3 separate regions of the Homo sapiens genome follow, and regions 1 and 3 are each reported to be linked to region 2. The links are microRNA targets in miRTarBase. Many come from high-throughput screens and were not tested one by one. Region 2 holds a microRNA gene; each other region holds the end of a gene's coding sequence. Distances are between the middles of the regions.

The links. Region 2 holds the annotated microRNA hsa-miR-624-3p (CACAAGGUAUUGGUAUUACCU, at 1,047-1,067, opposite strand). A microRNA usually pairs through its seed, bases 2 to 8, with sites in the 3' UTR of a target mRNA and lowers its output. Matches are read on the target gene's strand: a 7mer-m8 pairs with bases 2 to 8, a 7mer-A1 pairs with bases 2 to 7 and ends in A, and an 8mer does both.
Region 1: the mRNA of ZFP36L1 is a reported target of hsa-miR-624-3p. Seed matches in the 3' UTR shown: 7mer-A1 at 3,231-3,237.
Region 3: miRTarBase lists KRTAP4-9 as a target of hsa-miR-624-3p. The part of its 3' UTR that is shown has no 7-base or 8-base seed match.

Annotation. Positions count from the first base shown.
Region 1 is chr14:68,785,925-68,789,991 of GRCh38, forward strand. ZFP36L1 (ZFP36 ring finger protein like 1) reads right to left here. Exons shown (of 2, transcript NM_004926.4): 2 at 1,738-4,067. The coding sequence ends at 3,609. Among named protein-coding and RNA genes, the nearest start is that of ZFP36L1, 5.1 kb to the right of the region's middle. RefSeq lists silencers at 192-261, 282-331 and enhancers at 608-902, 1,192-1,371, 3,804-3,863, 3,874-3,953, 4,061-4,067.
Region 2 is chr14:31,013,623-31,017,689 of GRCh38, forward strand. It overlaps MIR624 (microRNA 624), which reads right to left and starts at 1,120; the gene lies at 1,024-1,120. All of the region lies in intron 1 of STRN3 (striatin 3), which reads right to left.
Region 3 is chr17:41,105,608-41,109,674 of GRCh38, reverse strand. KRTAP4-9 (keratin associated protein 4-9) reads right to left here. Exons shown (of 1, transcript NM_001146041.1): 1 at 3,187-4,067. The coding sequence ends at 3,654. It overlaps LOC124904002 (a long non-coding RNA gene), which reads right to left and starts at 1,443. Exons shown (of 2, transcript XR_007065754.1): 1 at 1,296-1,443.

The sequences.
Region 1 (4,067 bases), 38 Mb from region 2:
TCTTGTGGCCACCACACATGGGCCTGGGTTACCTAAATCCCAGCCTGAGTGAGTTCCCCAGGGAGACACTTAGGTAGAGGTAAAGGGTTAAGACCCGGGGACATGGAGCTTCCCCACATGATAAGGAGTCTCCCCTGGGCTTTACAGCCAACCCCCACCCTCCAGGGCCTCCAGTAGTCAATGTCTCTATCTTGGTTAGACAAAGTCAAAGGACTGACTCAGTCAAAGGACTGTCTCCTCTAGAGGAAATTCAGGGCTGGCCAGGAGGTACGCCTGGGCCTCTAGGAACCTAACCAGCGTCACCATGAGAGGGGAAGTTAGAAAGGTGTCTGCCACATGCTCAGGTATGCCTGCAGGGAATGAGCTCAAGGTGAATGATTAAATGTCTTTTTTGCTTTTACTCCGAAAGGAAGATCACATGCCACCACCAACCACCACCACCACCACCTCCACACACACACAAAGTTCATTTCCTCCTTAAGGGACAAGAGGCCTAGGTTTACTCCAGTCCTAAGAAGGGCTGCTTTTCCCCTTCCTAAACCACCAGCCCCTGCCCTGGAACAGGTAATAGTCCCTATTTTTCTACCTCACCCCCTGACCCCCAGTAGATATCTGATGACCAGGGAAATGAGTTGAGAGTAGAGGTAGGTCTTCGAGTCTCAGGGACATCCCTGGCCTGCCCAATGTCTGCTGCAGACCTTCGGAAGAGGCCTGGTGGAATCATGGTGACTCAGCTGAACTCCCAAAACTTCCTGGGTGTAAAGGAACCAAAGGCAAGTGAGCTGCAAATAGCAATCTCTGCCTCTCCCCAAATAAATCCTCCCAAGGCTCACACTCAAGATTTGTGAAAGTTCCAACTCCTCCGGCGGGTGAAATGCCACCTCTTAAGTGGTCATCTAGCCTTGGTGGGGGTGCATCTAGCCAAGGAGACCCCACCTTTCCCAAGATGACGACATACCTAATTTTGCATAGCACCTGAGATTGTAACTAAGGTGGTGGGAACCCTTGGTGACTTGCTGTGTTGTGTTGGCCAGTGTTAACACTCACTTCCCCTTAACAGCCCTCCAAACCCAAAAGGCTATGTCAAATCCAGTCCCAGTTCCCAGTTCCTTGTGACTGAGCCCCTCACCCCGCTGGACATTCCTCTCCAAGCAGGCAGTGCTTCCTTATACCCTCCCCACACGGGTAGGTGTTGAGAGGCCAGTACTGAGGTAAATTTCTTTCTTATGGGCAAAATGAGCCCAAGGCACCCCAATAAAAGAACTCACTCAAATCCAAGCCTGCAAGTGTGCCAAGTGCTAGGTCCTCTTTTATCATTTTGGCACCCCAAACACCATCCAAAGGAATGAAGAGCACAGGCTGGACGGGGCGGACTGGAAGGCCCTGAGCCTTGGCTCCCCAGAAGAACCGCAGAGGCCACACAAGTGTCGGCAAGGCTGGGCCCGCTGCTATTCAGCCAACAACTAACACACTGCACAGTCTTTTCAGAAGTAATACAGCAGGAAGTACAGGCTCCTTTGCAGAAAACCTCCACCCCGTCCCCTCTAAGCGCAGCAAACTGCCAGCATCAAGGAAGGGAGCTATAGGCTTAGCTTATAGGGATGAGAGATGCCGCCACCCACAGCCACAGCCCTCTCTCTCCGCCTCCCCCTACCCAGGACTTGCAAGGTATACAAGGGGAGAACCTTACTGGCAAAGTCAAACCAAAACCAAGTAAAACCAGCTCCACCATCAATGTTTCTTGAAAAAACGGGGTTTATTGATTTTTAAACTGCAAATAGTCGTTACAAAAAGTTTTTTTTTCTTTTAAATAAATTCACACAAAGAAAGAGAAATAGAAAGCGACGGTAGTGACCAGCAAGAGGAATAATAATTACATTCATCTTAATGTGTGTGTGCCAGTTCTGTTTACATTAACATTGGAAAACTCCAGACCTGGAATCCAGAACCTCAAATCTGTGAGTGGAATGTCTTGAGATGGGCACGTGGAAGTCAAAGGGTTTCTCTTTTTTTTTTTTTCCCCTTTTAGAAGCTATACATAAAAAGTTGTTTTCCTTCTGTACTGTCACAGAACTTTTACATACATTCTCAGTCCTAGTTGTGAAAGGCCTAAAGAGAAAGAAACTCAATTTGCAGTCCAACACAAAGGGGGGAATTTCTAAAATAAATAATCCAACAGTTTTTTGCATTTTTTTAAATTAATTTTTCATTTTTTTAAAATAAAATAACCAAAAAAGTGTAAAGTTACAAAAAATGTCGTTGAAGAATAATATATTAAAACTGTGGAAAAAAAGGAAAAAGACACGTCACAAAATTTTAAGATTAATATGAAGATCATAATTTAACATAAAAGAATATATTCTATGGATTTGTCATCCCGATAAATATGAACAAAATTAACAAAAAAAAGCATAGTTTGGCAATAAATACGTTTTGATAAGTTAAATAAGCTTTTTTATATTGATGTGCAGTGACAAGCAAAATTTTTGCTCTCCAATTTCTGAAAGTTATATGAAGTTTAAAACCCAGGGAAGAAAGCATGGCGTGAGTGCTCTAAGGATAGACCTACGGTATTCTAGAGCAAAAACCATTAAAGCTACTTCTACAGGAAATCGTTTTACACAGATATTGTATGTGGAATGAATACCATTAACTGCTCACCCCTTACTTTTTTTTTTTTAGCTTTTCTCTCATTTTTTTTTTGTTGTTATTTTTTTTAAAAAGATGTCACATATGAACTGGGGAACTTTAGCACCAAAATCAAGTCTCTCCTAGTCCATCTAGCTTCCCCTTCCTCCCCACTTAAAAAAAAGAAAAAATTAAATCACAAAGTCCCACTTAAGTCAAAATCTTCGTCCGCTTTTTCAGCCTTCCTTCCTGCAGACCTACACAAACCCAGGCAAGATTAGTCAACAGGGGTTCAGATCGGGAAGAAAAAGGTTTTGAATGTCAAGACAGGTTTCCCCCAAAACCCTGGTCTGGCAACAACTCTTCCAAGGGGCAGGGGTGGGGGGGGTGGGGGGGCGGGTACAGGTGGAGAGGTGCCACCGGGAAGAGGGGAGGAGGAATAAGTGTGCGGGAGACTGAAATGAGGGAAGGTGCAGTTGTGTCGCCAGTGGAGGGGGCTGCTGGTTCCGGGTCTCCACCCCGCCATGGGCAGAGGCTCCGGGAGGCCCACGGGTGCCCTCTGGCGCTGAAGAGGTAATGTAGTCACAGTGACAAAGTTAGATTACAAGGCACTAAGTTGCTTCTGTAAACTGTTACTGCTTTTTCTCTTGTGATTTGGCACTTAAGGCTTAAGCCGGAAAAAAAAAGGCATCTACTGACAAAATATGGGACTTGTCTGTTATGCATGGTAAGTGGGCTATAAAATCCAGGGAGGGGGTTTCAAGCCAGAAGAAGCTACTGACAAATTGACTTGTCCTTATGTTAGGTGGGGTTATGAGGGGGAGAGGGAGGGCACATTCTGAGGTGCTGGGGGAAAGGGGTTGAGCTTAACCTTGTTAATGTAGGGCCTGTGGGGAATGGGATGGGTAGGGAGAAGAGGGTATGGGATGTGGGTGCAGGGTAGGGGCTGGAGTAGGCAGGAGGTCCCTCCCTACCCTGGCTTAGTCATCTGAGATGGAAAGTCTGCTGAAGATGGGCAGGCGTCTTGAGTTGTCCAAGGTCGGGGAGTCTGAGCCACTGTGGCTGCTGCTGGAGCTGCTCAGGTAGCCCTCCTGGTCCGAGAGAGAATCCTGAGGGCTGGGGGGAGAGTCAAACATGTGAGGGGACTCGGACATGGGCCGGAAGAGGAAGGTGGTCGGGGAGCCACCCCCGGGCAGCCCCATGCTAGGGGCAAAGAGGCTTGCCAGCTCCTGGCTGGAGAAGGCAAAAGGGTTATTGGTGCCATCGGGCAGGGTAGGTGAGCCCAGGAGGTCATCGGCGCTCAGAATAGGGGGTGGGGTGATGGACGTGGGGCTGTCCAGCAGCCCGGTGGCAGCGGCGGTGGCAGCGGCACTGGGAAACCCAGCAAAGCTAAAGCTATGCTGGAGGCGGGGACGGTCAGCGGAGAGGTCCCGGGCCCC
Region 2 (4,067 bases):
CAGAGTCTTTTACCAGGCTGAAGAGCAGTGGTGTGATGATAGCTCATTACAACTTCAAACTCCTGGGCTCAAGCAATCCTCTCCCCTGAGCCTCCAAAGCTAGGAATACAGGTGCATGTCACTATGTCTGGCTAAATTTTTTCTTTTCTGTAGAAACGGGGGGGGTCTCACTATGTTGCCCAGGCTGGTCTCGAACTCCTGGCCTCAACCAATCTTCCTGCCTTGGCTTCTCAAAGCAATTTTATTATTATTATTATTATTATTATTATTATTATTATTATTATTATTATTATTATTTGAGACAGAGTGTCAGTCTATTGACCAGACTAGAGTGCAGTGGTGAGATCATGGCTCACAGCAGCCTTGACCCCTTGGGCTCAAGCGATCCTCCCGTCCCGGTTTCCCGAGTAGCTAGGACTACAGGTACAACACCATTGTGTCCAGCTAATTTTTTAAATTTCTTGTAGAGACAGGGTATCACTTTGTTGCCCAGATTGGTCTTGAATTTCTGACTTCAAGTTATCCTCCTGCCTTGGTCTCCCAAAGTGCTGGGATTATAGGAAGGAGCCTGTAAGTGTCCTGAAAGTGCAAAAATTGTTGTTGTTGTTGCTGTTCTGAGACAGAGTCTTGCTCTGTTGCCCAAGCTGGAGTGCAGTGACGTGATCTCGGCCCACTGCAACCTCCGCCTCCCGGGTTCAAGTGATTCTCCTGCCTCAGCCTCCCGAGTAGCTGGAACTACAGGCGCGTTGACACCACACCCTGCTAATTTTTGTATTTTTAGTAAAGACGGGGTTTCACCATGTGGGTCAGGCTGTTCTCGAACTCCTAATCTTGTGATCCACCTGCCTCAGCCTCCAAAAGTGCTGGGATTACAGGCGTGAGCCACTGCGCCCGGCCAAAGTGCAAAATTTTTAATAGGAATTTTTACGTCTGTTTATAAAGTCTATCTAAAAGTAGTCCAAAATTTTACTTTACATTTATAATTGCTTTAATTCTAGTCTTTTAAATCTTGTTCACTGAAACCACTTAGGTGTAATGCTATCTCAAGGTAATACCAATACCTTGTGTTTACCTTGGTTCCACTGAACACAAGGTACTGGTACTACCTTGAAACAGCATTATATATTGGTCAAAAGCACATCCTTTTTTAACCTTTTTTTCTTTTTCATTACAAGAACACAAAACCACTTTAAAAAAAAAAAAAAAAACAGGGTCTCACTCTGTTGCCCAGGCTGCAGTCTGTCACCCAGGCTAAAGTACAATGGTGCAATCTTTGCTCACTACAACCTACACCTCCCAGGTTCAAGCGATTCTCCTGCCTCAGCCTCCCAAGTAGGTGGGATTACAGGCATGCGCCACCATGCCCGGCTAATTTTTGTATTTTTTTCTAGAGACAGGATTTCACCATGTTGGCCAGACTGGTCTCAAACTCCTGACCTCAAGTGATCCGCCCGCCTTGGCCTCCCAAAGTGCTGGGACTACAAGCGTGAGCGCCACCGCGTCCAGCCTCACACCCACTTTTATTTATTTACTTTTCATTAGTTTCCTTGAAGGGTATTCTGTGTCCAGTAGCCTTACCAGGAAGGCTGCTTCAGAATTTGACACAAACCATGCCACTGGTTTCCACAGGTATGAGTTGCGTTTCCCCAATTACTATAGTTTTGTTCCGTTTGCCTATGTTATTCTTTGCTTTATACACATAAGCACAACTCTTAAATAGAATTCAGTTTCATCTTGGGCTTAAACACTTTCAATTTTTTTTTTTTTTTGAGACGGAGTTTCATTCATCACCTAGGCTGGAGTACAATGGCACGATCTAGGCTCACTGCAACCTCTGCCTCCCAGGTACAAGCAATTCTCCTGTCTCAGCCTCCTGAGTAGCTGAACTACAGGCATGCACCATCACACCGAGCTAATTTTTTGTATTTTTAGTAGAGACAGGGTTTCACCATGCTGGCCAGGCTGGTCTCGAACTCCTGACCTCAGGTGATCCACCCGCCTTGGCCTCCCAAAGTGCTGGGATTACAGGCATGAGCCACCGTGCCCCCAGCCAACACCTTCAATTTTAAGAAGAGCTGTATGCTCCTTTTGGCTCTGCAGACCTTACTTATAGCCAGGCCTTGGAAAGCAGCTGCCAAGACATTTACTTTTAGAAGTTCAGTTCTGTTCCCAGCAGGCCTCTACAGAACCTTGTGAGACAGGGACTCACTCTGTCACCCAGGCCGGAGTGCAGTGGGGTGATCATGGATCACCGTAGCCACAACCTCTGGGGCTCAAGCAATCCTCCATCTCACTCCTCCACCAGGTAGCTGGGACTTCAGGCACATGCTACCATGCCTGGCTTCAATACTGTTTTTCATTAGGGGAATGTAAATTAAAAACAGTGAGATACCACTGCATAACTACCAAAATGGTTAAAATCCAAATCACTACAACTCCAAAAGCTGAAAGGGGAGCAATAATAATTCTCACTCATTACTGGTGGGAATGCAAAATGGTACAGCCACTTTGGAAGATCATGTGGCAGTTTCTTACATAATTAAATATAATCTTACCATATGATCCAACAATCACACTCCCTGGTATTTACTCAAATTACATGAAAACTTATACGTCCACACAAAAACCTGCACATGGATGTTTACAGCCTTTACTCATAATTGTCAAAACTTGAAAGTAACCAAGATACCCTCCAAAAGGTGAACAAACTGTAGCACATCCATAAATGGAATATTGTTCAGCACTAAAAAGAAATAATCAACCCATAGAAAAGACAAGGAGAAGCCTTAAATACACTGCTACTAAGTGAAAAGGCTACATATTATACGATTCAAACTAAGGCAACCCTCTGTATCCAAGGGTTCCCCATTCACAGATTCAAACAATGGCAAGGCAAAAATATTCCAGAAAAATAATAAAAATATATATATATATATTTTGAGACAGAGTCTCGCTCTGTCGCCCAGGCTAGAGTGCAGTGGCGCGATCTCGACTCACTACAACCTCCGCCTCCCGGGTTAAAGCGATTCTCCTGCCCTCAGCTTCCCAAGTAGCTGGGATTACAGGCACGTGCCAGCACACCTGGCTAACTTTTATATTTTTAGTAGAAACGGCGTTTCACCATATTGGCCAGGCTGGTCTCAAACTCCTGACCTTGTGATCCACCCGCTTTGGCCTCCCAAAGTGCTGGGATTACAGTCATGAGCCACTGCGCCCAGCCAAAAAATAATTTTTAAAAATTATAGCAACTAGCCAGGTGCAGTAGCTGACACCTGTAATCCTAGCACTTTGGGAGGCCAAGGATGGCAGATAGCTTGAGCCCAGAAGCTCAAAACCAGCCTCAGCAACTTAGCAAAACTCTGTCTCTAGAAAAAATACAAAAATTAGCCAGGTGTGGTGGCGGGTGCCTGTAGTCCTAGCTACTCAGGAGGCTGAGGTGGGAGGATCACCTGAACCCAGAGATCAAGGCTGCAGTGAGCAGTGATTGTTTTACTGCACTCCAGCCTGGGTGACAGACTGAGACCCTGTCTCAAATAAAAAGTTTTAAAAAGTGTAACAACTATTTACATAGCATTTAGATTATATAAGTAATCTAGGCCGGGCGCAGTGGCTCACGCCTGTAATCCCAGCACTTTGGGAGGCCAAGGCAGGCAAATCACAAGGTCAGGAGATCGAGACCATCCTGGCTAACAAGGTGAAACCCCGTCTCTACTAAAAATACAAAAAATTAGCCGGGCGTGGTGGCGGGTGCCTGTAGTCCCACCTACTAGGGAGGCTGAGGCAGGAGAATGGCGTGAACCCAGGAGGCAGAGCTTGCAGTGAGCCGAGATCGCGCCACTGCACTCCACCCTGGGCGACGCAGCGAGACTCCGTCTCAAAAAAAAAAAAAAAGTAATCTAGAGATTTAAAATATACAGGAAGATGTGCATAAGTTACAAACTCATTGTATTGAGGGACTTGAGCATCTGAGGATTTTGTATCCTGGAGGAGAACCCCTGGAACAAATTTCCCCCAAGGATACCATGGGAAGGTATATGAATGTATTCTGGAAAAGGCAAAACTTTGGG
Region 3 (4,067 bases), not on the chromosome of region 2:
TATATGTACCACATTTTCTTTATCAAGTCTATAATTGATGGGCGTTTGGGTTAGTTCCATGTCTTTGCTCTTGTAAATAGTGCTGCAATAAACATACATGTGCCTGTGTCTTTATAGTAGAATGATTTGTATTCCTTTGGGTATATAACAAGTAATGGGATTGCTGGATCAAATGGTATTTCTGATTCTAGATCCTTGAGGAATCACCATACTGTCTTCCACAATGGTTGAACTAATTTACATGGGCCCTTTCTTTCTTAATGTAAATATGCACAAAGACCATATTACTTCCATTTTACTTAAACTCTGGCAAGTACAGGTGCCATAAAACCTATGGAGTGCTTGAAAGGGAATCATTCTCTTTGCTTTCTCCTCATTCTTAGATTATTTGTTTCCCAGTTTTCTTCTTAAAAAGAGGAACTGAGCTGAGGCCTAGAGGTTTTCTGTGGTGGATCAATATGTGCCATTTGTGGGCAGGACTCCACAGTGGGTCACCACTGAAAACAACAGTTCAGTTCCTCATGCAAATGCACACAGACAAGCTGAATTGAGCTTAATTTGGGGAGAAAAAGCAACAGAGAAGATCCTTTAGAATGCATTTGTGAACTAGAATTAGGATCTTTAAACGACAAATTCCTAGAAGGAAAACAAAACAACAGCCAAGACCACTTTTTGTAAACCTTGCTCAGCCACCCCTTAACTTTGTAGCTCTCATCTACCACTATACACAACAAGGTCAAAGCCAAAGAGGTCAGGTCATGCAATACAGGAAAATAGAGGTTTAGAGTTAAGAAGAATCTACCCATGACTCTTGAAACTCCACAAAGAAAACAAAACACCCCAAAAGGGGTGAGTGGCAACCTTTGTTCTGAATTCTTTAAGGGGGTTCAAGTCATTAGAAGCCTTCTCTAGACTTTTTGGTACTGCATATGGCAAAGGGGGAGGAGGTATATGGTGCAAGAAAAGTAAACGAAAGAACATTCGTGTTTTAAGACAGGAAGCAAACACAGAAACCAAGTGCATGGGTTTTTGGTTCTTTTTGTTTGTTTTCTTCTTTTGCAGCTGCAATGAATTTTAGCCAAATTAGAGAGGTTTTGTTACCCGTAATTTTGAATTCTCACTTGGATTTGACCAAGTCAGGTAGAGTTGGTCAAGTCTGATGGGAGAAAGACCAAAACAAACAACAAAATCTCCAACCATAGGATTACCAAGCACTCTAATGATAAGGAGAAATTAAGAGCAGCTAGCTGGTTGTTAAACTTTAGCCCAGACAAAGCCCCAGTTCAGCTACTTACCTAGGGATGGGTCTCAGGCTGAAGGCTGCTTTCTACCACCCTAGAAGCAGGAAAAAAACTCAAACTGGTCTTCCCTGCTGGGAGTGAGCTCAAACTCTACATGCCTTTCATCATCATGGAAGCAGGAAATCTTGCCTTCCTTGTAAAGGAAGTAAAAGTAAATCTTGCCTTCCTTATAAGGAAGGCAAGTAAGCAAGTAAAACTCCAAAAACAAAAATAGGTGGGGCAGTTGTACAGCAAAATGAACTTTAGTTCTTCACCAAATTTGGGGAGATCAGGGATTCTTTGGGGAGGGTGCTCCCAGACCTCAGCAAATTGTCCTATTGATTTGAGCCATAAAGTTAGCTCATGCTATTACCAGGCACCAACAGGATATTCGTCAAAGGTCAAGGGCATCTCCACTCAGAATCCTTTCACAGTTACCAAAATGTTAACCCAGAAAATCTGAGACAGGTCTCAGTTAATTGAGAAAGTTTATTTTGCTAAGGTTGAGGATGCTCCGGTGACACAGCCTCAGGAAGTCCTGATGACATGTGTGTAAGGTGGTCAGATAACACTTTTGTTTTATACATTTTAGGGAGACATGAGATATCAATCAACATATGTAAGATGAACACGGATTTGGTCCAGAAAAGGCAAGACAACTCGAAGCAAAGGCGGGACAACTCGAAGCTGGGAGGGGGCTTCCAGATCATAGGTATATAAGAGACAAATGGTTGCCTTCTTTTGAGTTTCTGATTAGCCTTTCCCAAGGAGGCAATCAGTGCATTTATCTCAGTGAGCAGAGGGGTGACTTTGAATAGAATGAGAGGCAAGTTTGTCCTAAGCAGTTCCGAGTTTGCCTTTTCCCTTTAGCTTAGTGATTTGGGGGCCCCAATATTTATTTTACTTTCACAGCCTCCTAACCTTATTTATCCTGCCTCATGTTTAAGAAGGCATCATAACTCTATGACTGAGATCTGGACAACATTTTTCTTAAGGCATCTGAAAAAATATGAAGCTTATTTTTCATATTTGAACATATCTGAACAAATCATCTTAAACTTGATTGGCTCAATAGCTTAAGGCCATTTCAGAGCTGATAATAGTCAAATAAAAGTAAAAACATCAAGAGCAGGTGCTCCTACTAGAATGCCAAGTTATAGTCACTTACCATATTCTTTCAGATTCAAATGAAGGCACCTCTCTTGGAAATTCTAATTAGGATATGCACCCCAGCTGCGACCTACTCAAGACTGAACTAATTCCAATAAAATAATTCTTAAAAAGAAAAGCGAGCCTTGAAATTTTCATCCTTTCTGGGTTTATATATATTAAAATGTTAAGTGTGGAGTTGTTTAAATTATAATGTAAACCCGTAGAGACCACAGTCAGCAATATACCATGCTATCCAGATGAACTACAGCTCAATATGCTTTTTTGTCTCAGCAGAACTCACTGGGAAATAAAGCCCACTTTTTGATTATAAATTCCAAAATGTTGTTATTGAGTAAAATGAATTCAGTACATGAAATTCTTTATAGAAGATTTCCCTTCTTTCATTGGTGTCTAATTTTCAGAAATTTGGTTTTATCTTTTTTGTCAAAACAGGGACGATAGTATTATGAGATATAATGTGTTAAAGATAAAATGTGTTTCAAGAGCTAAGGTATGAATTAAAACTGTCTTAATTTAGGATATTAAGACACATGTGCACACACACACACACACATACACACACATATACACACAGCACTTCTATTCCAATACCGTAAATTATCTATATTCGATATAGCATGTATTTTCAAAGTGATTTCAACACGGGTTGCTTTTCCTGCGTCTTTGTGTAAAATATAATTGTCAGGGAATCAGTAAAATAATTATGAAAGCAATAGAGAATGATACCAATGAATTCTTATGTACAGAAATTTTATTAAAAAGCAGAGATGCAACAAAGCATAAGAAATTCACACTAGGAGAAACACAGAATATAACTGGGCGGCTGGATCTGAGGGTGCAACCTCAGTGACAAAACTGGTCCTGCAGATAATGTCTGCCTCACTGAGAAGAAGATCTGTACCTCAAAGTGATAAAGAAAATGAGGAAATTAGAGGATTGGAATAATTTCTAGCTAGTGGATTACAAATTAATTCACATTTGGTGCCACCACCGGAAGAAAAAGAAAGCAAGGGAGGGAGTTTAAAATGAATCAGAATGTTCTCAAAGAGTCAGTGAAATGGTGATGGGCTCATTGGAAACATGAGTTCCATTCTATTGAATGACATCAACCCCACTTCCTGTATCCTAATGGTCAGCACAGTAGAAGGGTCTACATCTGTGGGCCAGTGGTGAAGGGGGAGATAAGCCAGGGCAGTGGGCTCAGCAGCAAGAGGAGGCACAGCACAAGGGGCGGGGGCAGCTGGAGATGACACAGGTTGGGCGATAGCAAGTGGTGTGGCAGGAGACTCGGCCACAGACTGGACGCACGCAGCAGCAGGGGCGGCAGCAGCTGGATTCACAGCAAGAGGGGCGGCAGCAGCTGGAGATGCTGCAGCTGGGGCGGCAGCAGTTGGGCTGGCAGCACACAGACTGGCAGCACTGGGGCTTGCAGCAGCTGGACACACAGCAGCTGGGGCGACAGCAGCTGGAGATGCAGCACCTAGGGTGGCAGCAGGTCGTCTCACAGCAGCTGGGGCGACAGCAAGTGGGTTGGCAGCACGCAGGCTGGCAGCACTGGGGCCTGCAGCAGCTGGACACACAACAGCTGGGGCGGTAGCAGGTGGTCCTGCAACA